Linked DNA regions of Homo sapiens: all the other regions are linked to region 7. Evidence: fine-mapped expression QTL. A gene starts in region 7. Each other region holds a variant in brackets. All regions are shown on one strand. Distances are between the middles of the regions. Region 1 has its middle 100 kb from the start of TBCA. Region 2 overlaps TBCA (tubulin folding cofactor A). Region 3 has its middle 36 kb from the start of TBCA. Region 4 has its middle 25 kb from the start of TBCA. Region 5 has its middle 70 kb from the start of TBCA. Region 6 overlaps TBCA (tubulin folding cofactor A). Region 7 holds the start of TBCA (tubulin folding cofactor A).

The links.
Region 1: its variant is fine-mapped to the expression of TBCA in whole blood (TOPMed, PIP above 0.99).
Region 2: its variant is fine-mapped to the expression of TBCA in esophagus mucosa (GTEx, PIP 0.94).
Region 3: its variant is fine-mapped to the expression of TBCA in whole blood (TOPMed, PIP 0.98).
Region 4: its variant is fine-mapped to the expression of TBCA in monocytes after LPS (Kim-Hellmuth 2017, PIP 0.95). The same link has a PIP of 0.9 or more in monocytes and monocytes after triphosphate RNA.
Region 5: its variant is fine-mapped to the expression of TBCA in whole blood (INTERVAL, PIP above 0.99).
Region 6: its variant is fine-mapped to the expression of TBCA in whole blood (TOPMed, PIP above 0.99). The same link has a PIP of 0.9 or more in blood mononuclear cells and lymphoblastoid cells.

The regions. Positions count from the first base shown.
Region 1 is chr5:77,874,063-77,878,130 of GRCh38, forward strand. No RefSeq gene overlaps it. Among named protein-coding and RNA genes, the nearest start is that of TBCA, 100 kb to the left of the region's middle. The variant T/G (reference allele first, on the strand shown) is at 2,486.
Region 2 is chr5:77,753,278-77,757,345 of GRCh38, forward strand. The region is part of intron 1 of TBCA (tubulin folding cofactor A); the gene reads right to left. Among named protein-coding and RNA genes, the nearest start is that of TBCA, 21 kb to the right of the region's middle. The variant T/C (reference allele first, on the strand shown) is at 2,072.
Region 3 is chr5:77,810,449-77,814,516 of GRCh38, forward strand. No RefSeq gene overlaps it. Among named protein-coding and RNA genes, the nearest start is that of TBCA, 36 kb to the left of the region's middle. RefSeq lists an enhancer at 1-342. The variant C/T (reference allele first, on the strand shown) is at 2,148.
Region 4 is chr5:77,798,936-77,803,003 of GRCh38, forward strand. No RefSeq gene overlaps it. Among named protein-coding and RNA genes, the nearest start is that of TBCA, 25 kb to the left of the region's middle. The variant C/CA (reference allele first, on the strand shown) is at 1,814.
Region 5 is chr5:77,844,525-77,848,592 of GRCh38, forward strand. No RefSeq gene overlaps it. Among named protein-coding and RNA genes, the nearest start is that of TBCA, 70 kb to the left of the region's middle. RefSeq lists enhancers at 43-909, 1,395-4,068, 1,804-2,388, 3,115-4,063. The variant G/A (reference allele first, on the strand shown) is at 2,481.
Region 6 is chr5:77,689,302-77,693,369 of GRCh38, forward strand. TBCA (tubulin folding cofactor A) reads right to left here. Exons shown (of 4, transcript NM_004607.3): 3 at 3,965-4,051; 4 at 1,865-2,197. The coding sequence ends at 2,117. Among named protein-coding and RNA genes, the nearest start is that of OTP, 53 kb to the left of the region's middle. The variant A/AAT (reference allele first, on the strand shown) is at 1,987.
Region 7 is chr5:77,774,675-77,778,742 of GRCh38, forward strand. TBCA (tubulin folding cofactor A) reads right to left here and starts at 1,665. Exons shown (of 4, transcript NM_004607.3): 1 at 1,531-1,665. The coding sequence starts at 1,583. RefSeq lists an enhancer at 1-244 and silencers at 1,262-1,431, 1,552-1,811.

The DNA.
Region 1 (4,068 bases), 99 kb after region 7:
CCGTCACCACTGGAGCCAGATCATTGGCAACAGAAGGGTTTTCTGTTGGAAGCTACCCATTTCCATCAGTGCAGTGGGCTTCAGCACAAAATGTTGTCTCCTAACACATGGGGTGGTGGGGACTTTGGGAAATGATAATCAGAGACAGGGAGCAACTGGGAGGCAAAGGGCAAATCATATCTGGGAAGAATTACCAGATAGGCTTTACCACATTTATAAAATATGAACAACTGTATTGATCTGAGAAAAAATCCTCACCCTTTTAGCCTTTTCTAAATTGAGATGATAGCACTGTTATGCATTAAAAGATGTTATCAGTCCAAAGAGCAAGTATGGTCTTATACCAACTAATATCTGCTAAAATGTACCTGACTGCATTGGAAATGTTGCAGCAGATTGGTATAGCTGGGAATAATGAACCGCTGCACCCCATTGAAATGTAATTACACAGCCCTCTTGTTCTTAAACCTATAAGGTGAAAGAAAGATGAATAGTGAAAGTAAAAACCGCTGACCCTTCAAACTTTAATTTACATTATGCATTCGCTCGCCCTTCTGATAGGTTTTAGAAAGGTCATAATTTAGGGTATTTTGCCATTGATAAATGATCTGTATGTTTGCGTTCACACGCACCGATTGATTTGTTATAGCCAAAATATTGTTTCTATAACAACCCAAGGGCCCTTAACTAGACAAACGGCAAACCAGAATCCAAGGGGAGGCAAAGGGAAATCTAGGCCTGCCCAGAAGGGGCTGGCCTTTGCCCAGGGACTCCAGGATGATGGAGTGGAGCGTGTGGGTGAGGATGCAGGGGCAAAACTGTGGGAGGGAGAGGTGGTGGTGGAGCAGGTGGAGCAGCGGCTTTGGTTCTTGGCAGGCCTGCAGTCGTGGTCTCTCCAGCCCAGCGTGGGTGGCTTCCACTGCAGCTGAAGCAAGTCTTGTCAAGACTTTCAAGTTGAGCTCCCTTTGGTGCAGAGTGGGCCAGTGGGGTTGTTAGGGCAATTTTCCCACCTTTCCAGACTTGGAAGAGGCTCCTGTTTCTGGGCCCAGTTGATGCATTATGCATCAGGGCTGCCTGCAACTGACAGCCCCTCAGCCAACGTCGACTTGAAAAGCAATGGTGCTAATCAAAGCCGACACATTTGAATGTCCAGACACACACACAGAGAAATTTACTAATCAAAAAGTGTATTTCCTAGGGCTGTCTCCAGAGAAATCCGCGAGAAGAAATTGGAATAATTTATTAGCTTACAAGTTTTCGTTGACAGTTAGCCCAAAGCTATTTATCTCTGTAATAGAGAACGTCTCCAATGTGGCAAAATTGACCAAATCAAACAGCTTTGATCAGAAAATGAATCTGGCAAGGCTGCCTGTCGGAGGGTCCCAGGAGAAAGAGGGGAAACAAACAAAAAGATTTAACAAGTGGTCAATAGGAAAAAGAGAGCAAGAGAAAGAGATTTAGGAGAAGAAAAGAACGAGAGAGGAGGAGGCAGAACAACAAATTTTGCAAAACCATGGCCCCAGCTCTGGACTGAATTCTTGAAGAAATAAATGATGTTTCACATCATAACATTTAACATGGTGCTTGTACATTTTCTGAGCCCTGCAGCCCAAACTGAGATGTGATTTTTATGGTAACAAGATGATGACAAACTGCAGAGGGATAGGGCTTGCTGCTGCTGGTGGTGGTGGTGGCAGTGAGGAAATAAGCACGGGAAAATCCAGAGAAATGGCTCTGCCTCTCCTGGACCCAGGATCAGCGTTAGCTCACTAGAAGCAACAATCATGCTAACTGTATCCAGTCTGCCTCAGTGGGTATGAGGTGCTTGCCCATCTAGTGCTAAGCTGGCTTCTGTGAGAGGCACTGTAACCACGTGTGAGTTTGAAGATAGGACCTGTTCAGAGGCTCCTCTCCTTCTGCGCTCATGGGCAGTGCCTGGGAGACTGTAGTGGGAAGATCTATTCAGTGGGAGAGTGGATCTGGGGTGCCCTGCTTTCTACCTTAACCTCTTCTTTCAAAATGTACAGGTATACAAGTATACACACTGCAGTCAAGGGAGGGCACCAAATACAGCTTTGAAGCCCACTGTTAGATGGATGGATAAGAATTATAAACTAGGAAAATACCTTAAATCATCATAACATTACTTTCCATACTAACAATGGTCTTTCCCTATCATCCTGGTCAACCAACTAACCAGTCTCAGACATCCTCTGCTGTGAGCAACAACTCCACAAGCTAATACCCCAGTGCATTCACTGGCAAGGGAGTTGCTGTATTCAACAGCCAAATAATTAGAAGGATGCTCCTGCAACCAATATATTTGTCCCCCAAATAAGTGCTGAAAAATCATCATCAACATCAGCACTTACTTTATTCTAGAGAAGAGTTTGTGTGAGCTTTTTATGTTGAAATACATTTAGAAAATCATGATGGAAAGCTGCCAAGACTGTCAATAAAGAGAACTAGTAAAATGTGGAGGAAG[T/G]CTTTCACCACAACACCCTCTGAGTTAGAATTATTTAGTGAGGACATTGTTGGATGAAGGCTTGAGAGGGTCAAGTTGACTTGAAAGGGAGCACCAGCTCTGAAGTTTGAGGACCCAGGTAATTCCCTGACTGTGTGTCTCGGGACCCACTTTCCTTCTCTCTGGAAACCCCAGGCTTTGGCCCTGATGATCATTCCCGGCATTACAGGGGTTGTGATAGGAATTAAGAGAGACAATTACCAGAAAGCACTTTGTCAAATAATTAAAGCGCTAAACAAATAGTAGAGATTATGACTACTGTTTTGTCCTGGTAGGAAGAGAATGATCAGCAACTTTGCTTGATCAACCAAATTCAACTTAATTGCAGAAGATCCGTGTCAGGAAACCAAGCTACGCACTCCGAGAGCTCACCTACCAGCCATGATTTCGGCATTTTCCTTAGTAACAGGCATTATGCCTCCTTTTTTTTTCTTCCCCCAGAGAACTGAGTCACAATCTCACAAAAAGAGGCTGGTCAAATATCCAGGGCTTCTAGGGACTGTCCCTTTTTGGCCACACGCCCTTCCTCAGACATTTGCAGGAGATAGAGTTGGCTTTAAATTCTTTCGGGCTCCCAAATCAGGTTTAAGTCCCCATGTCTGATCCATATGTCTGTGTATTCTTGGAGCTATAACCCCTGGCTAATTGAGTACTAAAGGTGGATCTGCAATTTCACTTGATCAACCAAGGCCAACTTAATGTGCTTTGTAAAGGACTTAGTGGACGGTATCCGAAAGTGAAAGTATATCTAAACCATCCAAACAAAGTCAACTTGGTTTTGTTGATATTTTATACAGGCACAGGGAGAATAACATTTTAGCCAGTCTTGTTTTTTTTTTTTTTTTTTTTTTTTTTGACAGCAAGTAAGGCAGCTTAGCTTTATTTGACTAAAATTTTCAGCCTGTATGTCTGCATCGTACAGGGTAATGGGTTAGCTTGAGTGTTTGGATCGGGTCCTCCTGTGAATGCATCAAAATTGGCTCTCATTTACAAGAATTACATTTTAATACCCATCCTGACACCGTGATGGCCACACACCACAGATTTGCACAGTGTCTTATAGCAGTTTCCCTTGGAGCCGCTCTCCTAAGCAATCATGCCTGTGATCCATGTTTTATGCTCTGCCTGGGAACGGGAGCAACACACTGCCCCTTCGCCCTGGTCTCTCAGCAGCCCCACATCTCGTCTAGTTGGGACCCTTGCAGTGTTGATGTGTACTTTTTTGTTGTTGTTTTGTTTGCTTTGCTTTTTGAGACAGGGTCTTGCTCTGTTGCCCAGGCTGGAGTGCAGTGGCATACTCACAGCTCACTGCGGCCTCAACCTCCTGGGCTCAAGTGATTCCCCCGCCTTAGCCTCCCAAGTAGCCGGGACTACAGGCATGCACCACCTGGCCCGCCTATTTTTTGTTTGTGTGTACTCTTCTCTTTGGCAAAACAAAGCAGTCAATTTCTGTTTAATGGCCTTGCTGTGTAGTGTGGCTGAGGACATGACAGGGAGCTTCTACAGCACATCAGGTCTAAAACGGGTTAAAAAGCTTCAAGATT
Region 2 (4,068 bases), 21 kb before region 7:
CTAGCTTCTATCAGAATGGCAAGCCCTTACTTTTCTTTAAGTCAATTGATTAGAGCTCTTTCACACAGTTTAATAGTGAAGTATCACTTTCTCCTGACACATATACAGATATAAGAGACATGCAGACAAAAGCAGATCCAACATTTTTCACCTGCTTTTTTAAAAACATTCCCTCCCTTACTTTAAACCATTAATTTAAAAAATGTTACAACAAAAGCTGAAGCAGAAAGTTACCATCCCAGGCCTTCATAAAAGAGAGAAGGAGGTAAGGCAGCAGGGTATAGCTTCTGAGATATCGTGAATAACTTCAAAATGAGACAGATTACAGAATTTAAAAATTAAAAACATCTTGCTTTGAGTAACTATTTTTAATGACATCTTGTTTTAACCAATTATTTAATTCTGTATTAGGGTATTTTTAATATCAAAGTTCAATTTTAACAAAAACTATTATAGTTTCCTTTAATTATAGCCAATTAATCACATAATATTTTTTGTTTGTTTTCATTCTCGCTCTGTTGCCCAGGCTGGAGTGCAGTGGTGCCATCTTGGTTTACTGCAACCTCTGCCTCCTGGGTTCAAGTGATTCTCCTGCTTCAGCCTCATGAGTAGCTGGGATTACAGGCATGCACCACCACACCCGACTAATTGCATTTTTAGTAGAGACAGGGTTTCACCATGTTGGCCACGCTGGTCTCGAACTCCTGACTTCAAGTGATCTACCTACCTTGACCTCCCAAAATGCTGGGATTACAGGTGTGAGCCACTGCCCCCAGCCAGTCACATAATATTTGTATAAATTCCTTTTTTATTAACCTTATTAAAACTTAGACCATTCACAGCATGTCTGGACTCTATGGCTTGTCCTGAATATTTCTCTTTCTTGAAGAACCCAGTCATTTTATTTTAGGATAAAAATTCACCATACAAGACTCTTTCTCACATAAAATTACTTTTCTTTAACCTTTCTTACCAAAAATACCTATTTATTTCTATAACTTTCTTTACATCTCTCTTACTTCCTGGTCCCTTTTACCTTGTTTTATACATAACCTTTAAATAAGCTTTGAATTAGACAAATTATTTACCTTTTAATAAGAATATATTTTTTAGAATGTTTTCCTACAATGCGTTTTTTAAATTGAAAAATATCCAGACATTTAATGAAATATTCAGTATAACTTTAGATTCTAATTTATGACAAGTTTATTTACAAGTATTTATTCCACTACATTTACTTAACAGTTTACCTAGATTATTTATGAAAACTGTGACAGTCATCATGTAAAGTTATTTCCCTGTCAACCATTTTTATATCCTGTGAATTTTGGGTGATTACCTAAGTAAGAACCTTAAGATTATATACAGGGTTATTTTACCAGTAATTCAAGATATAGCTGTTTTCATTAAACCAATATTAATGTCTTATTAAAAATTACACAACCAAAGATCATTCTGGTTTTGGCTGGGTTTATTTTTTAAACCTTAGAGTATTTGGCAGAGATAAAAATGAAATTGTTTCATCAATAAATGCAAACAAAAATGCTGACAATTCTTAAGACATTTCTAATATTATTTTACCAATAATTTAAAAGTTACATTATTAAATATTTTACTTCAGTCATGTGAACTTGAAAAGTATTTGGGATTATTATTTAATTTATGAGTACTCTTTTAGCTAAATTTGGTACCTTGCGGCCAAAAACACACAACAAAATACATGTAGCTATACATAAACACACACATACTCATAAAAACAAAGTTCTACAGCTTTTACTTCAGAACTCTAGCCATGAGATAGTAATACAAACTCACTGGTTTGCAAAAACAATAACAAAAAGAAATGGTTGGATTCATACAGTGGATTTTATCTCAGTAGAAAAGTAGCAGCAGACTTAAAGCAGGCAGAAAAGAAAGCAGAGAGACAGAGAACTTAGGAATTTTATAGTTACAGGTTAACCTTTGGGATCTGACTCTTCCTCAATGTAATTTGCCCATCAGTTTAAAATGTGCACAAGAGGCCAGGCACGGTGGCTCACACCTGTAATCCCGGCACTTTGGGAGGCCAAGG[T/C]GAGCAGATCATGAGGTCAGGAGCTCAAGACCAGCCTGACCAACAAGGTGAAACCCTGTCTCTAATAAAAATATAAAAATTAGCCGTGTGTGGTGGTGCACGCCTGTAATCCCAGCTACTCAGGAGGGCTGAGGCAGAATTGCTTGAACCTGGGAGGTGGAGGTTGCAGTGAGCCAAGATCATGACACTGCACTCCAGCCTGGGCACAGAGCGAGACTCCATCTCAAAAAATAAATAAAAATTTAAAATAATAAATAAATAAAATGTGCACAAGAACAGACCTAATATGTAACTAGCTGGAGTATTAGAAAACCTGGCATGCTCTTCCATTTATATAACCATTTGCAACTAGAGGCACCATAAAACCAAATAGGGGCCGGGTGCAGGGGCTCACACCTGTAATCCCAGCACTTTGGGAGGCCAAGGAGGGCAGATCACCTGAAGTTCGGAATTTGAGACTAGCATAACCAACATGGAAAAACCCTGTCTCTACTAAGAATACAAAATTAGCTAGGAGTGGTGGCGCATGCCTGTAATCCCAGCTACTCAGGAGGCTGAGGCGGGAGGATAGCTCGAACCCGGGAGGCGGAGGTTGCGGTGAGCAGTGATGGCACCATTTGCATTCCAGCTGGGTCAACAAGAGCGAAACTTTATCTCAAAAAACAACAACAACAAAAAAAAAAACACAAATGGGTTGCCCAAGGGGGGTCGTTCTCCTTGTTTTTCCTCATTATTAGATGATTTGTTTGTCACATTTTTTTAAAAGGAGGAACCAGACCGCAGCCTAGGATTTCGTGTAGTGGGTCCAAGTGTGCTGATTGTGGGGAGGACTCAACAGTGTGTCACCATGGAGTCATTTCCACCCTCCTACGTCTCAATTTTTCTCTCCAGAGGTCTAGCACCTTCCAGAGGGCTCAAAGTGCAGAGTGACCAGCTCCTATATGCATTTCCTAGACAAGCCTTTTTAAACTAATTGTGTTGGGAGTTCCCTGTAGGGCTGCTGCACAAGTCACAAGGGGTAAACCCCCCAGACACTCCCATTGGGCTCCCGGTCACTCAGAGGCACCTTCTGGTTGGGAGGAGCACAATGACCTTTATCTTCAGAGCTGAGGAAACACAATCTCTCATTTATCTATGAAAATGACTTTTCAGTTTCTCAGGTGAATGTGCAGACAAGCCAATGGAGATTAATTTTGGAAGGAAAGGCAATGAAGACTTTAGAATCTTCTAAAGAATCTTGCCCGCTAGAATTAGCATCCTAAAGAACAACTTCCTAAGAGGAAAAAAAAAAAAAAACAGCTAGGACTGCTTCCTATAAATTGTCCTCAGCCACCTTTAACTTTGTAGTTCTCATCCACCATTACACACACCAAGGTCAAATCCTTTCACTGTACAGGGTAGTCTCTGGAACCCCCGAAAGCCAAAGAGATCAGGTAATGCAATATGGGAAAGCAGAGCGTTAGACCTAAGAAGAATCTGCCCATGACCCTTGAAACTCCACAAACAGAACACCCCAAAAACAGGTGAATGCACCTTTGTTGTGAGTTCTTTAAGAGTTCGAGTCATTAAAAGCCTTCTCTAGACCTTTTCTTGGTACCAAAGATGGCAAAAGGGGTAAGGAGCAATAGAGTGTAAGAAAAGTAATGAAAGAACAATTTTTTTTTAAGACAGGAAACAAATACAGAAACCAAGTGCTTGGTTTTATTCTGGTTTTCTTTTTGCAAGTGTAAGGAATTTTAGCCAATTCAGAGGCTTTGTTCCCCATAATTTGGAATTCTCATTCAGATCTGACCACGTCAGGTAGAGTTGGTCAAATCTGATGGGACAAAGACCAGAACAACAACAACAACAAAAAATCCAACAATATGATTACAGAGTGCTCTAATGGTAAGCAGAAATTAAGGCCAGCTGGTTGTTCATCTTAACTTTAGCCCAGAAAAAAACCCCAATTCAGCTACTTGCCTAGGAACGGGACCCCAGCTAAAGACTGCTCTCTA
Region 3 (4,068 bases), 36 kb after region 7:
GACCAAGATCCCGCCAGAAGGAACAAACTCTGGACACATCTTGGCGACCACGAAGGGACTATTGCCAAGCAGTGAGTACCATTGGACCTCTTTCACTTGCTATTCTGTCCTATTTTTCCTTAGAATTCGGGGGCTCAACACCGGGCACCTATCAACCAGTTAAAAGCCACTAGCATGGCCGCCGGACTAAAGAAATGGGTGTCAGCCTTTCTGGGAAGGGCTCTCTAACAACCCCGGACTCTTCAGAGTTGGGAGTGTTGATTTTCCTGGAACCAGATTCCGCTTTTCCTGTACTTCTGGGCTGAACCAAGGGTCGACAGAGAAGAAAGCCATTCAGCTCCGGGGTCCCGACAAAAAGTTGGTTGTTGCTTGACCCTGTAGTCATGAGCAGAACTCTCAAAGTCACGTCACCCAACCGAGACTCATCCATCTATCCTATCTATCCTGACCCTTGCCTCCTGGGTCTTAATGCCTGTCAGACAAACTTCCTCCCAACTCTCTTCTCTGAGGCTAGTCCCACTTCTAAAAACAACTCCCAGTTTCTGGTGCTTTACTAGTTTCTCCTATAAGAATGATTTCTAGTATAAACTTCAGCACTCTGTTCCCTTCTTTAGGAACCTGGGCTCACCAATCAGAAAGACATAATTTTTGCCCAAAGCCCCATCAGGAGCCAGTGGGGGACTATCTGGAACTTTAGGATCCCTCCTCAGACTAACAGGCCTAACAAAAGCTATTCCTGAAGCTAGGATATGGAGAGCCTCAGAAATGATATCCTTCCTATTCATATGATGAGAAATGAGGACAAAAGACACTCTTCCAACCCTGGAGATCCCTTCCCTCCCTCAGGGTATGGCCCTCCACTTCATTTTTGGGGCATAACATCTTTATAGGACAGGGGTAAGGTCCCAGTACTAACAGGAGAACACTAAGGACTCTAACAGGTTTTTGAGAGTGCGTCAGTAAGGGCCACTAAATCCGATCTTCCTCACTCCTTTTTGTGGTCTAAAGGAAAATTAGGGTTTCTGCTGCTGTGTTGGTGAGCGCAACTATTCTGATGAGTGGGTTCAGAGACCGTTGTGGATTCTTGGGCAAGAGGGGTTTCTGCTGCTGCGTTGGTGAGTGCAACTATTCCGATGAGCAGGGTCCAGGGACTGCTGCAGGTTCTTGGGCAAAAGGGGTTTCTGCTGCTGCATCGGTGAGTGCAACTTTTCCAATCAGCAGGATCCAGGGACCGTTGTGGGTTCTTGGGCAAGAGGGGTAAACAAACCAAAACCATGGGCGGGTTTTCTTTCAGATGGGAAACATTCTGGCATCAACAGGCTTACCCTCGAAATGCATCCTAAGCCATTGGGACCAATTTGACCCACAAACCCTGAAAAAGCAGTGGCTCATTTGTTTCCACACTGCGGCCTGGCCCCAGTATTCTCTCTCTGATGGGGAGAAATGGCCACCTGAGGGAAGTATAAATTACAATACTATCCTGTAGCTTGACCTTTTCTGTAAAATGGAAGGCAAATGGAGTGAAATACCTTATGTCCAAGCTTTCTTTTCATTGAAGGAGAATCCACAACTATGCAAAGCTTGCAATTTACATCCCACAGGAGGACCTTTCAGCTTACCCCCATATCCTATCCTCCTATAGCTCCCCTTCCTATTAATGATAAGCCTCCTCTAACCTCCCCTGCCCGGAAGGAAACAAGCAAAGAAATCTCCTAGGGACCACAAAACACCCTTGGCTATCAGTTATGTCCCCTTCAAGCTGTAGGTGGAGGGGAATTTGGCCCAACCCGGGTACATGTCCCCTTCTCCCTCTCTGATTTAAAGCATATCAAGGTATATCTGGGGAAGTTTCCAGATGATCCTGATAGGTATATAGATGTCCTACAGGGTCTAGGGCAAACCTTCGACCCTCACTTGGAGAGATGTCATGCTATTGTTAGATCAAACCCTGGCCTTTAATGAAAAGAATGTGGTTTTAGCTGCAGCCCTAGAGTTTGGAGATACCTGGTATCTTAATCAAGTAAATGATAGAATGATAACCAAAGAAAGGGACAAATTCCCTACTGGTCAGCAAGTCATTCCCAGTATGGATCCCCACTGGGACCTCGACTCAGATCATGGGGACTGGAGTCACAAACATCTGTTGA[C/T]CTGTGTTCTAGAAGGACTAAGGAGAATTAGGAAAAGCTCATGAATTATTCAGTGATGTCCACTATAACTCAGGGAAAGGAAGAAAATCCTTCTGCCTTCCTTGAGCGGCTACAGGAGGTCTTTAGAAAATATACTCCCCTGTCACCTGACTCACTCAAGGGTCAATTAATCCTAAGAGAGAAGTTTATTACCTAATCAGCTGCAGATATCAGGAGAAAGCTCCAAAAGCGAGCCCTGGGCCCTGAACAAAATGTGGAGGCATTATTAAACCTCACAAACTTGGTGTTCTATAATATGGACCAAGAGGAACAGGCTGAAAAGAAAAAGTGAGATCAGAGAAAGGCTGCAGCCTTAGTTATGGCCCTCAGACAAACAAACCTTGTTGGTTCAGAGAGGACAGAATATGGAGCAGACCAATCACCTGGGAGGGCTTGTTATCAGTGTGGTTTGCAAGGACACCTTAAAAAAAGATTGTCCAACAGAAACAAGCTGCCCCCTCACCCATGTCCACTATGCTGATGCAATCACTGGAAGTCACACTGCCCCAGAGGACAAAGGTTCTCTGGGCCAGAAGCCGCCAACCAGATGATCCAACAACAAGACTGAGGGTGTCTGGGGCAAGCACCAGCTCATGTCATCACCCTCACTGAGCCCTGGATAAGTTTAACCATTGAGGGCCAGGAAATTGACTTCCTCCTGGACACTGGTGCGGCTCTCTCAGTGTTAATCTCCTGTCCTGGACAGCTGTCCTCAAGGTCCATTAGCATCCAAGGAATCCTGGGACGGCCTATAACCAGGTGTTTCTCTCACTTCCTCAGTTGTAACTGGGAGACTTTGCTCTTTTCACATGTCTTTCTTGTTATGCCTGGAAGTCCCACACCCTTATTAAGGAGGGACATATTAGCCAAAGCTGGAGCTATTATGTACATGACTATGGTGGACAAGTTACCCATTTGTTCTCCCATGCTTGAGGAAGGAATCAACCCTGAAGTCTGGGCATTGGAAGGAACAAACTCAAGCTCCAGCCTTAAGCCTTCCCACAGGACAAAACTTCTCTTTATAAGTCACAGACAGAGCAGGAATAGCTCTTGGAGTCCTTAATCAGACTGTGCCATCTTTAAGAGCTGTAACACTCACCACGAAGGTCCATGGCTTCATTCTTGAAGTCAGTGAGACCAAGAACCCACCGGAAGGACCGAACTCGGGACACATTACTACTCTTTAAAATGAACTCAAATGTGGTGTGCATGCTTCTGTATATGAGGTATATTTCACAATGAAATGCAACATTCGTTAAGTGAGTCTCCTGGTATGTAAATCTTGGCATATATCTGATTATTTCATTAGGCTAATTTCTTAGATGTTGAATAACTGGGTCAAAAGATGTTAACATTTTCAAGGCTCTTACTTGCCAAATTACCATTTAGAAAGATTGTACCCATTTCCCTTCCCAGTAACAATGCATCAGAGCTCCTGGCCATGTTGCTTGGGAAAGTCATCTACCCTTGCTTTTCCCATGTGCAGCTACCTCCCCCTTACTCCTTAACCCACTGTATTCTGATTCTGGCTTCCAACCAAAATCTCTCTCTCTCTCTCTCTCTCTCTCTCTCTGTGTGTGTGTGTGTGTGTGTGTGTGTGTGTGTGTGTGTGTGTCTTTTAGGCTATCAATATCCTCCTATTTATGAAATTTGATGATCACGTTTTTTCTCCAATGATTTAGGAGATATGTTAGCCCTAAAGAGGTTTCCAGATGGCTAATATCATCTATCATGTATGGCTTTTAACTTTTTTTGTTCTTAGATCATAATTGGCTCTCAGTTCTTGGAGAATCTTCCTATGGCTTCCTAAAAATTACATCAATTCCCAAGGGAAAAAATAGTAGCTAGTAGACAGGTTTAAATAGTAGATAGAATTCTTCTC
Region 4 (4,068 bases), 24 kb after region 7:
CCCAACAACTTATTATCATTGCATTTAAATTAAGCAAGATGAAGATAGCAGATAGGCGATTTGGCTGCCTCATGTAGGGCTGCTAGGGCATTACCTTGAAAGAGCCCCCTTAGTCCAGGATTTGGTCCTCAGCTCTCTAGGCGCAGAAACTCAAGTTTGTCAGAACATCAAGAACTGACAAAGCTCAGATGGATGGACTCACATGATCCAACTTACATGGGACCATTGAACAATCCCAAATGCCAAAGTGTTCATTTATAGTGAGAAATACTACTACATAAATGTTTAAACTGGTGTATGCATTCCTTCATTTGTAGGAAAATGTGATAGTCAGAAGGTGGCTGATGGTCATAAAGTGAGAGTGGGAGAGTTGGTTGTCTGAGCTTCATAGCACAATTGTCTGACATATCTGACTCCATTAGAGAGATGTACTAGGCAAACTGACCAGATGCTCACATCAGCTAGTAAGCCTCCTCACCATGTGTATAGAGCCAGCAGAGTCCCCCCAAGTCTCAATCTTTCTCTCCTCTTTTCTTGGCTCCTGGCTGAGACCAGCCTTCTGTCAGCATATCTTTTCATGTAGTTAATATGTGGTTAGTTACAGTTTTATGTGTCCAAGACATACAGTCTTGGACAAGTTATTGAATCTTTCTGTTTTCTCTTCTTTAGATTGGGGACAATAATCCCTATTTGATGGGGCTTTATATGGATTAAAAGCAGTAGTCCATATACGTACTGATAGGAACAGTGCCTAACACACAGAAAGCTCCCAAAACATTCAAGTTCGATTCTTATTTTTACTCCTACTTTGATTATATTATTAAAACATTCTGCACTTTTGATAGATTTTTTTTATTTAAAAAGATAGGTTAAGGGGGCATTACTACAGATCCCATGGGCATTAAAAGGATAATCATGAAATACTGTGAACAACTCCATACCCACAAATTTGATAACCTAGATGAAATGGACCAAATCCTTAAGAAACACAATCTGCCAAAACTCACTCAGAAAAAACAAACAATTAAAATAGGACTGTACTTATTTTCAAAATTGAATCTATAATGAACAACCTTTCAAAACAGAAAGCACAAGGCTCTGATGGGTTTATTGGTGAATTCTATCAAACATTTAAGAAAGATATTATACCAATTCTCTATAATATCTTTAAGAGACCAGAAGGTGAGGAACTACTTTCTAACTCATTCTGTGGATCCAGGACAATCCTAATACTAAAACCAGACAAAGACATTACAAGAAAAGAAAACTACAGACCAATATCCCTCATAAACATAGATGCAAAAACCCTCAACAAAATATTAGCAAATTGAATCCAACAATGTATAAAAAGAATTATGTCCCACAGCCAAGTGGGATTTATCCCAGTTACGCAAGGCTGCTTCAACATTCAAAAACCAACTAATGTAATCTATCACATCGACATGCTAAAAAAAATCATATCAATAGATGCAGAAAAAGCATTTGACAAAATTTGACACCCATTCCTGATAAAAACTCTCAGTAAACTAGGAATGGAGGTAGACTTCCTTGACTTGATGAAGAATAGACACAAAAAAAACCTACAGCTAACATCATACTTAATGGTGAGAAACTAGATGCTTTCCTACTAAGATCAGGAACAGCGCAAGGATGTGTCCTCTCACCACTGCTTTTCCACATCATACTAGAAGTCCTAGCTAATGCAATGAGACCAGACAAGAAAAGAAAATGTATACAGTTTGGAAAGGAAGAAATAAAACTATATTTGTTTAGATGACGTGATTGTCTATGTAGAAAATCCAAAAGAATTGAC[C/CA]AAAAAAAAAAAAAAAGCTCTTGGAAGTAATAAATGATTCTAGAGATTGCAGTATGCAAGGTTAATATGCAAAAGTCAATTGTTTTCCTACATACTAGTAAGGAATAAGTGGAATTTGAAATTGAAAACACAGTATCACTTACATTAACACCCCTTAAAAATGAAATACTTAGGTATAAACCTATCAAAATATGTACAAGAACTAATATGAGGAAAACCACATAACTCTGATGAAAGAAATCAAAGAACTACATAGAGATATATTCCATGTTCATGGATAGTAAGTCCAAATATTGTCAAGATATAAGTTCTCCCTAACTTGATCCATAGATTCAATGCCACTTCAATCAAAATCTCAGCAAATTATTTTATAGATATTGACAAACTGATTGTAAAGAGAATGTATATGGAGAAGCAAAAGAACCAGAATTGCCAATAAATATTGAAGAAGAACAAAGTTAGAAGACTAACACTACCCAACTTCGTGACTTACTATAAAGCTACAATAATCAAGACAGTGTAGTATTGGCAAAAGAATAGACAAAGAGACCAAAGGAACAGAAATAGACCTAGCTAATAGCCCATAAATAAATCTACCTAAATATAGTCAACAGATCTCTGACAAAGGAGAAAAGGCAGTACAATGCAACAAAAAGTCTTTTCAAAAAATGGTGCTGAAACAACTGGACATCCAAAAATAAAAAAAAATTAATCTAGACACAGAACTTGCACTCTTGTGTGTTCTGAGTTAACACAAAAATTAACTTAAAAATCATAGAACAAAGTGTGAAACTCCTAGAAGCTAGAAACAAGCAAAACTGGGCGGCACGGTGGCTCATGCCTGTAATTCCAGCATTTTGGGAGGCCAAGGCAGGTGGATCACCTGAGGTTGGGAGCTCGAGAACAGCTTGGCCAACATGGCGAAACCTTGACTCCACTAAAAATACAAAAATTAGCCAGGTATGGTGGCGCACACCTAAAATTCCAGCTACGTGGGAGCCTGAGGCAGGAGAATCACTTGAACCTGGGAGGCGGAGGTTGCAGTGACCCGAGATCTCACCACTGCACTCCAGCCTGGGCAACACAGTGAGACTCCATCTCAAAAACAAAAGAAAAATGCAAAACTATAAAACTCCTAGAAAATAGAAAACCCAGATGACCTTGGGCATAGTGTTGACTTTTTAGCTACAACATCAAAGGTATGATTTATTAAAGTAATACTTGATAAGCTGTACTTCATTAAAATTAAAAACTTTTACTCTGGAAAAACAATGTCAAGGGAATAATTAGATGAGCCATAGACTGGAAGAAAATATTTATAAAAGGCACATCTGATAAAGGACTCTTACCAAAAATATACAATGAACTCTTAAAAGTCAACAATGAGTTAAAAAATTTCAATGGGCAGAAATGGAAGAACCCAATTTAAAAATCACCAAAAAGATAAACAAATGGCAAATAATATGAAAATATATTCAACAGTCTATATCATTAGGGAATTGCAAATTAAAACAATGATGATATACCACTATGCACATGTTAGAATGGCTCAAGTCTGAAACATTGACAACATCAAATGCTGATGAGTATGTAGAGCAACAGGAACTCTCTTTTATTGCTGGTAGGAATGCAAAAATGGCAAAGCCATTTTGAAAGACACTGACAGTTTCTTACAAAACCAAACATACTCTTACCGTATAATTTAGCAATCACACTCCTTGATATTTATCCAAATGGCTTGAAAACCTATGTCCATACAAAAACCCTGTTACATAAATGTTTATACCAGCTTTATTCATAATTGCCCAAACTTGAAAGCTACCAAGATGTCTTCCAGTAAGTGAATGGATAAACAAACTGTGGTACATCTAGACAATGGAATATTATTCCATGCTAACATGAAATGAGCTATGAAACCATGAAAAGACATGAAGAAAACTCTAATGCATATTACTAAGTTAAAAAGCCAATCTGAAAAGGGTGCATAATGGCTATGACCATATGACATTCTGGAAAAGGCAAAACTATGGAGACACTAAAAAGATCAGTGGTTACCAAGAATTGGGTGATGGGGAGGGATAAATAAGTAGAGTGCAGAGGATATTTTAGGGCAGTGAAAATATTCTGCATGTTACTATAATGATGGATACATGTCATTATACATTTGTCCAAACTCATAGGAGGTACAACACCAAGAGTGAACCCTAATGTAAATTATGGACTTTTAGTGATTATAGTGTGTCAATGTAGGTTTA
Region 5 (4,068 bases), 70 kb after region 7:
GGCTGTTGGAAATAAAAGAGAGTTACAAGGAACGTCTGTCAGAGTCCGGTGATAATTCAGGACTAATTGTGGTGATTAGCGCAAACTGGATGACTTTGGGCTTTGCTAATGCAAAGAGAAACGTGCAGGCTCCAGCCAGGGACCCCTCGGAGAACAGTGCATGGGCTGTGCGCAACTTTGCTGAGCCATTTTCCCGCGAGGCCCCCAGCGGCGCGGGGGCTGTGGGGAGGTGGTGTGGGAGTACGGTCGCTGCTGCGCGGCGTGGGGAGAACTGGAGCGGCTGCCCGGACGCCCCCGCCCTGGTCCCGGGTACTTTCTCGGCCTGGCTGCAGCCGCGTGGATGTCTCTCGAAGCCTCCACCCTATTCTCCTTATTGTTATTTCCACTCACCCCCCAACCCCCTCCCGCCGTCCTGGTTCCAGACCGCCTCTCTCAGGCTGCCGGGGAGGGGGCACATCGCGCCCTCCCCGAGACCCTCGGCTCCCCGCTTTACCCACGCGCGCGCCTCCTCGTGGGGAGCGTCCGAGCAGGCAGGGCTTTCCGGACATCCCTCCACTACCCCGTCGTCTCCTCCTTCCACTCTCTCAGTCCTCTAGGCCCTCACCTCTCTCCCCCAAAGAAATACTCTATCCACCCCGCTCCCCCAAACCGCTGCTCCAGGTGGGTGTCCCGCAGCCTGCACCAGCCTAGACAGGCAGAACCTGCCGCCTGAGCAGGGGAAAAGAGTGCTACCGCTTATAAACGGCCGGAGTTCTCATTATTGAGGAGTTTCATAACTCTTTAATTCATTTTTAATGATGGCAATAAACATGGTAGTCATTTTGGAACAATAGCTAAAAATCATAGGGCCATTACTGTCCATTAAAACAGTGTTTACAGTTCAATGGAGGTTCACGTGCCCCGTAGTCATTCATATTAGCCAAAGGAGAGATTTATAGGTCAGAAGAACGGTTCTCTTTTTATTCTTTATACAGCATAAAGCCTATTGAGCAAATTGTTAAAAAAAAAAAAAGTTCACTTGGCTTTTAATCGTGTGAATGGGGATTAAGTAAGGAGCTGTTGTCTGGCGCCTGATTTCTATTTGATCAATAAATCATCAAGTGCTTTAAGTGCTTTATTCTCTATCAAATTAAATGAAAAATACTTTAACCTGCGTCCCTGGTGTCGGCAGATAAAGCTAATAATATTTTCTGTTATGTTTCCATTTAGGCATTTAACACTCAGAAGAATCTACTAGGTCTTGCTTGCACCGTCTTTATCTATCTCTCTCTATTAGAGATACTACATATTTATCCCACATACCTACAGACACAGGGAATTCTCAACATCAAGAGGAGAGCTTACTTGTTTCCAGGAAGAAAATCTAAGTAGGATCTCCTAATGTACACCAAGTATTTCAGTCACCAGCTCCAACTAATATGGCTACACCTTAAAGAGCAAGGTGGAGGTGCAGGGGTTCAGGTCCCACAGGCACCTGGGGAGCTGGCTCTTGTTGGCTGTTACAGGCTTGGAATAACATTTTACCTGAGTGTTTGCCCTTTTCTCTTTGATTCCAATTCTTACTAAAATAATAAATCAAAACAATAGGCCCAAAGGAAGAAATCTGTATTATTTCCCAGATTCTTCTGTCCTATATTAGATATTACCTAATATAATATGTTTTATATATCCTGCCCTGCCTTTGGAGAACTGGCTGGCAGAACAGGCCCTTCCAGACCTAGAACCATAACTACGAGGTCTGTATTTTATAGGATAATATAATTCAAATATGGTGTTTAGGTACCAAACCATGTTTTTTCATTTCATGTGTTTCACAAAAGATTTTCCCTTAGTGTGTACATTTTGGAAAGTTGTTTGTTTTTTTTTTCTTCTTTTATGCCTGGGGTGACGTGGCTTTGGCCTGTAAAAAAAAAATGCAATCCAATGATATTTGTGAAGTTTAATTGCTAACTTAGCAGCTCGGTCACACCTCCCAACCCATTAGATGATGAAATCTCACCTGGTTAACGGGTACAGCACTGTGGCCTCAATGGCGAACGCCTGATTATACAGCCAAGCTGCTAATTTACCAAACCTCCCAGCCAGGGAGGCCTGGACGGCCACCACTTACTGTATTCATGCGGTAGCTAAGAGAAGGAACCGTATTCCCTGAGCCGCTTTCCAGCTACCCGCAGAATGAGAAATGTAAAATTAGTGGAGATGTGTGCATGAAGGGAGCCGAGCAATTAGCAAGGCGCGGGCGCCCGCTTGCCCAGAGGGGGTCGGGGAGGGCGAGTGGGGAGACCAGGGCGCGAGGGCAAAGGGCTCCCTTCCTGGCAGGCTGCGGTCTGCAGGCCTTGGCTGCGGCGAGGTCAGCGCTTGTGCAGCAGCCCCCGCTGCAACGGCTCCCGGTTAAGAACAATGCTGCTTCCTACCATCCCTTTACAATGTACGCCTGTCCGTGACTTTATACCCACTTGAGGCCCACAAGGCACCATTGG[G/A]AGCACACACACTCTCTTTTTCTGTTTCTCCCCAGCTTGGCCCGGCAAAAATCATGTTAAACATCCAAACGCTGCAAACTTAACAACTGTCAGCATCTGTACAAACAGTTCTCAAATCCTAGAACATCGATCTTAGGAAGAGGGGCCTGAGGCCTCCAAGCAAGACCTTGGAGTCCCTCCGGCTAGTACCCCATCCTCATTCTCTTTTCTCCCACACCTCCCCAGTTTGTAGCTCCCAGATAGCCACTCTCCTTGGTGGCTGCAGGGCTTGGCTGCTAAGTGCAGTGCAAGGCTTGTGATCTGGGTTTCCCTCCGCCCAGTGTACGGATGCGCATAAGCTGGATATTAACAATGGCAGTGTGCGCTCGCACCTCTGCCTGCGAGGGCAGGTGTCTGTGTACAAGTTCTGTTAGATGCAATGTGGAATTACGTGCATTTGTGCAGGTTTCTAAGCCATTTTGCAGCCGAGTTGTTGCTCTGAGATTGGATGAGGGGGCCAAAGAGAATGCCCCTTTTCAGGGGCTTCAAGGCTACCTTTACTTCCTCTCCTTGCAGTTCCAGGTGGCAAACCCAACCCTGTCCTCTCCCCACCCTCCCTTAAAACCAACCAAACAGTTCACAAACCCTTATTTATTTGTTTGTCTGTGGTTATTGCCCATGTTATTAATTGCACCCAGGACTTCCTTGCTCTTTGAGAGAGCAGCGGTATAAATTGGCTCTAATAAATATTAGCTGCTAGATTAGGCGAGGTGAAGCTGGCACCGTGCTCTATTTTCGACCTGTAGCCTCTGCGAAGCCGCCAGTTCTGCGCCAGATTAGCCCCATCCATCCAGTGTCAATGGTTGTCTTGTTGAGAAAATCAGTGAGTAAACAGGGCTGACAGAGAGGGGGCCCAGCTGATTACTCATACAAATAGACTGCAAACTCCTCCAGGAGAAGCTGTTTCCAGAGATGGGTTTCTCGCATTGACAAGGCTGCTTCTCCCAGGATCCTGTGTCCTGCTGTTCCCACTTTGTCCTCCATCAATCACACAATTGTGTCCGGGATGTTTTATAGAGTCACTTAATATCCCTGCCTTCATCTCTATTCACTTAGAGAATCATCTGCCATCAGGGCTAAAGGCTTTCTGCAGGATAGGACTGGCGACACACCCGGGCAACAATAGCTCTGGTGGAAACAGGGCCTGGCGCCCTTTCTGATGCTAATAGAACAGCCCCGGGATGTTCCAGTGTGAGGCAGCTCCTATTGAAATCGGCCATTAGCCCTTTGTCCACTGCATTAAATTATCCCCTGGGCTAGTCCATGATAGGGGTATGGAGGCCACCATAAGTTTTCTTTAAAAATTATTTCTTTTCCCCTAAAATGGTTTTTGGATTTGAGAATTGGTCATGATGAAAGTCATAAGTGCTTTCTCTCTTCTTTTCTTTACAAAGTAGGGGGAATTATGTTTAGGCTAAATGTATAGAGTACTTTCGGCCTTTATCCACTTCTTCATATTATTAGCAGAACTCTGCCCGCCTGTGCCCCTACCCACCTCACTCCTCCTATTCCTCACCCTCTGCCTCTAGCCAGACTGTCCTGTCCAGAT
Region 6 (4,068 bases), 85 kb before region 7:
TATATATTTATATATAGAGACACAGAGAGAGAGGTTATACATTAAAAAAAATACCAAAATAGTTTCTGTAAATGAAATACTACTTGGAAAACTAATTGGCACTTCCCCCGCACCCGCCCCCACCCACCCACCCCTTCCCAAGCCAATCTATTGCTCTGGTACTTGATAGCAACCACAAAATAATCTAATTCTCTTGGTGTTCAAACCTCTAACACTAAACCTTAATATCAAGTTTTACACTATAATTACTTTTTATTTTCTCAACTTTTCCTTTTCCCACCTCAAATACTTTTAAAATGGCATGTAATATGTTTTGGGATGACATTCCAATTTAGAAATGCTTCTGATATATGTTATTCTCTGAAGAAGTAATTTTTGGCATGTGTAATAAGGTTATTTTTATTTTATTTTATTTTATTTTGAGATAGAGTCTTGCTCTGTCACCCAAGCTGGAGTGCAATGGCATGATCTTGGCTCACTGCAACCTCTGCCTCCTGGGTTCAAGCAATTCTCCTGCCTCAGCCTCCCAAGTAGCTGGGATTACAGGTGCCTGCCACCAAGCCGGCAAATTTTTGTATTTTTTAGTAGAGACAGGGTTTCACCATGTTGGTCAGGCTGGTCTCAAACTCCTGACCTCAGGTGATCCACTTGCCTCGGCCTCCCAAAGTGCTGAGATTACAGGCGTGAGCACTGCGCCTGGCTTAAGTTTATTTTATAAGTGATATAATCTGTGCTTTATAACAACAGAACCTTTAAGAATAACTTAGGAAAAAATAATTATTTTTCTCTTTTCTGATCTTTGGACAGATTCAATAAATGTTATGATTTCTAGTGATTATCTACAACTTCCAAAATCATACCAACCATAATAACACTGTAAGTATTTAATGCAGCAAAAATTCAAGTTTTTTTTTTCCAATTTTGACTTTTCAAATTTAAATGCTATATATAGATATTTGGTTCCTTACACCAATGCCCATTAGGCTGGTGATATAAGGCTCACACACATTTTCTGGAAATATAAAAAATCTAAATGAGTTGTCTTGTATTTTTGGAAAATAAACTCAAGTGATTGGGTAACAGGGTCACAATTGTACTGGAAAAATGCTTTCTGACAAAATGATACTTTTCCCCCCCGAGTCAATCTAGATAATCAAGATTGGCTACAGCCAAATTATGGTGGAGCTGGCCCAAATTTTCATAACTCTGTGTTCAGTGATGTCATATTAGTAGTTTGAAATTGGTCAAAGGTAGGAGTATTTATACCACAGAAATCAGCAAAAGCTACCAATCAGAGGTTCCCCTCCTATTCTGAAGAGTCTTTAAATATTTGCCAGCACTTCACTGGCAATGGCCATTATTGTTTCAAAATACCATTCAACTCTTCATTGTTCATAAGAATCTTATTTGAAGATCTAAATGGTTGGGGGTGTTTTCTGTGTGAATCTGTCCTCGAAAAAGATTTAAATGTTTCTCATTCATTTATAGTCATGGAAATGTTAGAGTTTCACTGTGAAGGCCTTATTATGTGAGACCTTCCCCAAAGAGAGTTCTTCCTTTTATATCAGTTGTATTCTATTCCAAATAAACTGCTTACAATTCAATCTTTTAGAGATAGGGTCTTGCTATGTTCCGTAGGCTGGAGTACATTGGCATAATCATACCTTACTGCATCCTCATACTACTGGGCTCAAGCAATCCTCCCACCTCAGCCTCCCCAGTAGTTGGGAATACAGATATGTACCACTACACCCAACTAAAATTTGGATTGTTATTTGAAAAAATGGTATTCTATTTTTTAAAACTCAATCCATGCTTGTGAAGCAAAATATGTAGACTTCGAATAGAACCTAACAGATTATAGTTCTCTGTCATAAAGTCTATGTGGTTTAATGATAAAAGGTTAATTTAAAAATTTTGTAAAGTATAAAATAAACAATTTTATTAGATGAACTCATTTATTTGACATATTAAATTAGACAAAGA[A/AAT]ATATATATGTAACCAGATAAAAACAATCACATTCTCATACTACTTGAACACATAGCAGTGGTCAAAAATAATGGATTGTAAAATGGACCCCAGGATTTAATGCAAAAACCACCCCATACGAGAAAAGTTTCAGGCTTCTAACTTCACTGAATCCAGTACTAAACGTGCTTCTTTATATTCCTCAGCTTCTTCCAAGTCTTTTTCATTTTCCTAAAATGAAATACAATAAAAATTAAGTTTATCCTTTTCAAGTTTCAGTACTTTGTTATTTACTCAAATATTACAAACCATTAATGTTAATAACTAAAAAATTAAAAGTAAAAAATCCCAAGCCTCATCTAAATATATTGTAATTCCACAGGTTTCCCACATTCTGTTCCTTCTTTACAAGGAAAGGAAGAAATAACTGGTGGTTTTGTTTCACTGTATATATTCTCATAAAATAAGTGAATAACAGTCTTCTAAAGCTACCAGCATTAATTAAATAAAAACCTCAGAAAAAGTTTATTCTCATTTTGTTGACCCATCATCATCATACAAAAGAGAAAAGTAAAAAGGAAGATTTACTAACATGTTACATATATGACAGCATTCAGGCCAAAATAATCCACTGACTATTCACAATGACAAAGAAGGCTTCTGATGTCACAACAGAGTTAAATATAATCTTTGAATTAAACAAATGAATTGCCTGCTTGCTAATGGGTATTACATACCCTACACTAAAGGAAACAAAATACATCTTTCATTTTCTGATATTTAAAGATTGAGTTTTTCCATAATACTGATATACAGGCAACTTTTACTAATATATTGTAATGATAACAGACAAATGAAATAATATTATCTAAAGTACACAGGAAATTTTGTTTGATTTTTAAATGAAGCTATGGTTAGCAATTTATGTCAGGTCAATAAAAGATGGAGATATACAAACAGTAGAGGAAATAAAGTATGTGTGTATTTAATATGAAAACTGAAAGCAAAACGACTGAGAATTTGCTTAGCTCAAACTATACGTAAGAATTTCTTAAACCTCCATGTTATACCTTAAACACATCTTTGTTCTCTGTTAGTAAATACAAGCTCTTCAAGGGCAGAGATATTGTTGAATACATCTTCACATACAAATATATCATCCAAATACATTATTATTATTATTATTATTTTGGTATTTTTAGTAGAGACAGGATTTCACCATGTTGGTCAGGCTGGTCTTGAACTCCTGACTCGTGATCCACCCACCTCAGCCTCCCAAAGTGCTGGGATTACAGGCATGAGCCACTGCACCTGGCGGCCAACATTATTTTTTTCCAAGCAATTTCTATTACTTTCTCAGCTACTAGATTCATGAGAGAAAAAAGCATTTAAACTGTCAAGAAATACAAATGATGCTTCCTGTCTTAGATAGTATTTTAACAGTTATTATTTCCTGCTTTATCTACCTTCTGTATCACAAGGCATTTATACCAGCAAGTATAAGTGTTATTCAGCTCCAAGTTAGTATGAGGGGACTACATAGATTACCAGGTTTTTTCCCCCTCTCAAACTGATCTAGGTTTGAATGTGAAAGAATTCAAGATCCTTTTAATAAGATCCCAAATTCTTTTGAAACATTAGATCTTTTAAAATTTTAATCAGTCAACTCATCCTCAATGTCTCAAAAGATCTTTATGTATGAAAACCAAATAATCAAGACATTGCTGGACAATACTGGTACTATCATAACTTAAATAAATTTAACTAGCTAAATTTTAATAAACTGAACAAACATGCTAGAAAACAGTACTTTTACTGGAGGCATAATTCAAAACACAATTTAAACTCCATTAATTATTTTAAAATATAGCGGTATAAAGGGCAAGTGAATAAGAAATACTGCCAACTAGTTCTCAGTGTTAAATATTTAAACTTTTGGCTTTCCATGTATTGGATTGAAAAAAAAAATTTAAACATGACACAGAAGTCTTTGCTTACTAGTATCCGTTGAAGATCCAAATATGCGGCTTCCAACCTGCGCTGGCAATCTGGGATCATCATCCTGGATTCTTGTAGGATCTCTGCCTAGAATGAGAATCTCT
Region 7 (4,068 bases):
TGTATAAAACCAAGCTGTAGCCTGACCACCTCGGGCACATGTCATCAGGACTTCCTGAGGCTGTCACAGGCATATCCTTAACCTTGGCAAAATAAACTTCTAAACTGATTGAGACCTGTCTCAGGTACTTTCTTGGTTTACAGGAATTTAAGCAAATTACAGGACTGCACTACCCATGAGTTTGTGAAAGGAAAAATAAATCTCAGGACCCCAAAATCACTAAGCCAAAAAGAAAAGTCAAGCTGGGAATTGCATCGAGCAAACCTGCCTCTCATTTTATTCCTGAATAAGATAGCTACAAAGATTAAAAAAAAAAAAAAAAAAGCTACATACCTCCCTGACAATTTGCCCCCAAGGAAATTCCTTGTGGGCCTCAAGACCTTCACTCTAAAACAGTTCTGTTGTATTTCACCCTGGCAATGTAAATTGATAGCTTATCTTCACAGGTATGGGACAAAGAACAGAACTCAAAGTCACCCCTCTACCCACCTGAGACAAATGCGTAACTGACTGCTTCCTCTGCCCTACTGTGTATGTAAAATCGCAGATTCATTTAGCCGACTAAGGCATAAGTGACTATTCTTCTATCCCTCTCTCACATGTAAATTGTGTATTAAGTGAAAAGCTGATCAAAGACTCAAAAGAATGCAACCATTTGTCTCTTATCTATGACCTGGATGCCCCCCAACCTTCTAGTTGTCCTGCCTTTCTGGAGGGAACCAAGGTACACCTTACCCATTGACTAATATCTGAGGTCTCCCTAAAACGTATTACACCAAGCTGTGCCCCAACCGCCTTGGGCACATGTCATCAGGACCTCCTGAGGCTGTGTCATGGGCACGTCCTTGGCAAAATAAACATTCCAAATTAAGACCTGTCTCAGATACTTCTGGTTCACAAGTTATTTAAACAGCATCTCACAGCCTCTGGGGCGAGCTTCGGGGAATCTGACTGGAGAAAGTGAGGCCACATAAGTTTGCTGAGTGTGCTAGAAGTTCAGGCCCAGTTCTCAAAGCCTGCCAGTCACGCCAGCCATGTTAGGTCACACGGCTCCACTACGGTCTTTTTTGACGAGGCCCAGATCCTCCGCATCCCCCTAAACTTCAGAGCCTGCTTTCAAGCCCATTTGAGAGCACAGCTGGGATCCCGCTTCCCCGGGCCAAGTTCAGCAAGGAGAGGCCGGCGCGCGCACACAGGAGGCACGGGATCAGGGCCCGGCCCGCCCTCGCAGGCCGCGGCCCACCACCTTCCCACCGCGGGCGCCGAGAAACCGGGCCACCGCCGACTCTTCCGGCAAATCAGAGCGGCCAGTGAGCGGAGAGGGACGGGAAGCGGCGTGCGAGGCTGGCGGGCTCGGGCGTCAGCGCGCCCCGCTGGGTCCCTGCCAGTCCCAGCCAACTGCGGAGCCCCGGGTGCGGCCTGGAGTTCGGAGCCCGCCTCGGGCCTCCTCGGGCCTGCGCTCCGCTCAGCCTCGCGGGCCGCCATGAGGTGACGAAGAGGAGGTGCAGGGCGCCGCTCCCGGCTCCTTACCGCTTCACCACGCCGGTCTTGATCTTGATCTGTCTCACGCGAGGATCGGCCATGGTCCCTCGAGCGCCGCGAGAAGGAGGGGCGGAGAGCCGGGGTAACCGTGGAGGGCGACGCGCAGAGGCTGCGGCTATTTAGGCGTGGTCGCCGGCGCGCATGCGCAGGCTGCGCGGCCCGTCGTCCCCGCCACGCCCCGCGGGGCGGGTTTACTAGAGGGCGGTACCCTGCTCCCGCCAGTCCCTTTACCCCTCGTGCGCCCCTTTACCCGTAGTGAAACGTGCCCTCCTCCTCTCTCTCGGACTGCCCCTCTTTTTACTTCAGGCGCAAGTTACACTATCCCGGTCTCCACAGCCTGGGCCTTTGGGGAAACTAACGTCTCTCTGGGACGTTGCTTTGCGGGATTATCTGCTTAATGGACGGAGTGACCTAAAAAATGTATTAAGGGTATTTTCGATGTCGTTATCTGGTGTCAGATGAGGCAGAGTGATGCATGTGTAGTGAAACAAACTGCCATCATGCACGCAGTCAAGAAAATCCTTGCCCTTTACCTCAAATCCCTGCAAGAAGGTTTGTAGATAACGTGCCTTTCAAAGGAAATGACTAACAGAACTTCTTCAGATGATCACTTATAGTGTATCCTAAATATTTAACTTACAAGAATGTGTGTCGCACACAAAACCTTGGGCTTCCTAATCAGACAAACCGGCTTACAATCGAGGTTCCACCCTTTAATAGCTAGACTATTAGCTAGACAACACTGATACGTATGCTGTTTAGCCTTGCAGCTGATCAGTCTGCAAAATGGAAATAATAATGTCCATTTTACAGATTAGGTATAAGGGTTAAAACACCTAGCTCATTGTCTGACGCATGGTAGATGCTGAACAACATTTGACTATTTTATATGTTCAAAAATATATTTGTTGCATAAAATGAGGCACATCTACAGTGAGCTCTAGCAGTCCCTTCCTAAGAGAATCTCCTGAGGAATACAGGGCAGAATCGCCCTTTTTAAAATTGCTTTTCTTTTTCTTTTTCTTTTTTTTTTTTTTGAGACAGATTCTCACTCTGTCGTGCAGTGGCTTGATCTCGGCTCACTGCAACCTCCGCCTCCTGGGTTCAAGTGATTCTCCTGCCTCAGCCCCTAGAGTAGCTGGAATTATAGGCGCGTTCCACTATGCCTGGCTAATTTTTTTTTTTTTTTTTTTTTGTATTTTTAGTAGAAACGGGGTTTCACCACGTTGGCCAGGCTGGCTAGAACTCCTGACCTCAGGTGAGGCCCACCTCACCCTCCAAAAGTGCTGGGATTACAGTCATGAGCCACCGAGCCCACCCCCTTTTTAAAATTTCTTGGTACCATCCTTCAAAGACACCCATATGACTGTCTTTTTCCTTCCCTAGCCTGACTTACTCATTCTCACTTTCATGACTGGTCCTGGAATCCCCTTCTATCCCGCCAGCCCAAGGCCGTTACTTTAAATCCAGGATCAAAACTGAGCAAAGTCTACTATGACTCACCCCACCTGTTCAATCTTCCCTGGATGCTTTGGAGTCACCCAGTAGTCATCATTATTTTTAGTATATTTCTTTTTCAAATTATTGTTTGGTCCTTCGTAAGGGTTTTGTTCAGCTTCGTAGTTATAAATCCTGGTTCATAAACATGTTTAGAGGCAAGATTCTTGTCTTCCATAAATCTTCCTTCCCCAACCTCCTCCACCTGTGTTTTGTGCACAATGGGCACAGAATTCAATAAATATTTTTATTCTGCTGGCTGGTATACTGATGTGCAATTCCAAGTCACACAGCAGCGCTGTGAAATACTGGAGGGAGGGGTAGATAAAACACAACAGCAAACTTACCAAAGCAAAATGACATGCACACACACACACAAACACACACACACACACACACAAACAGCAGCTACAAGCCACAAACCAAAAGATGGTGCAGCTAGGGCTTTTGCTACCGTTAAGGTCTTTCCTTTGATTAGGTAGCAAAAACCATGTAACTCGTCATATTTTCCTTTTTTGCTTTGGTTTCAAGAAGCTCAGAGCTCAGTTTTGTGCTAATTTGCAGGAGTTTCTCTCAAACTAGGCTTCCCAATACAAATACCTGCTATTTCCCCCCAATCCCCAATTCTGCCTCCCTCCTTTTGCCCCCTTTCTCTTTGTTTTAATTGATTTGTATCTGTGCCTTTACTATAAATCAATAATCAGTAAATGTCAGCAGCCAAAAGACCTCTGCTGCTACTGCCATTGTGTGTTTCCAGGCCCATTCCCAGGCTCTGGAGGACACTTTGTGAGTTTATCTGTGTCTGTGTATACAGTTGACCCTTGAACAACAGTTTCGAATTGTGCAGGTGTGTCAGAGGTGTTTGAACCAAAGCAACTCCATCTTGAATAGGGTCTGGGTAATATGAGGCTGAGATCTGCTGGGCTCTCTTCCCAGGAGGTTAGGCATTCTTAATCACAGGATAAGATGGGAGGTTGGCAGGACTGGTTTCACTAGACACAGACCACAAAGACCCTGCTGATAAAACAG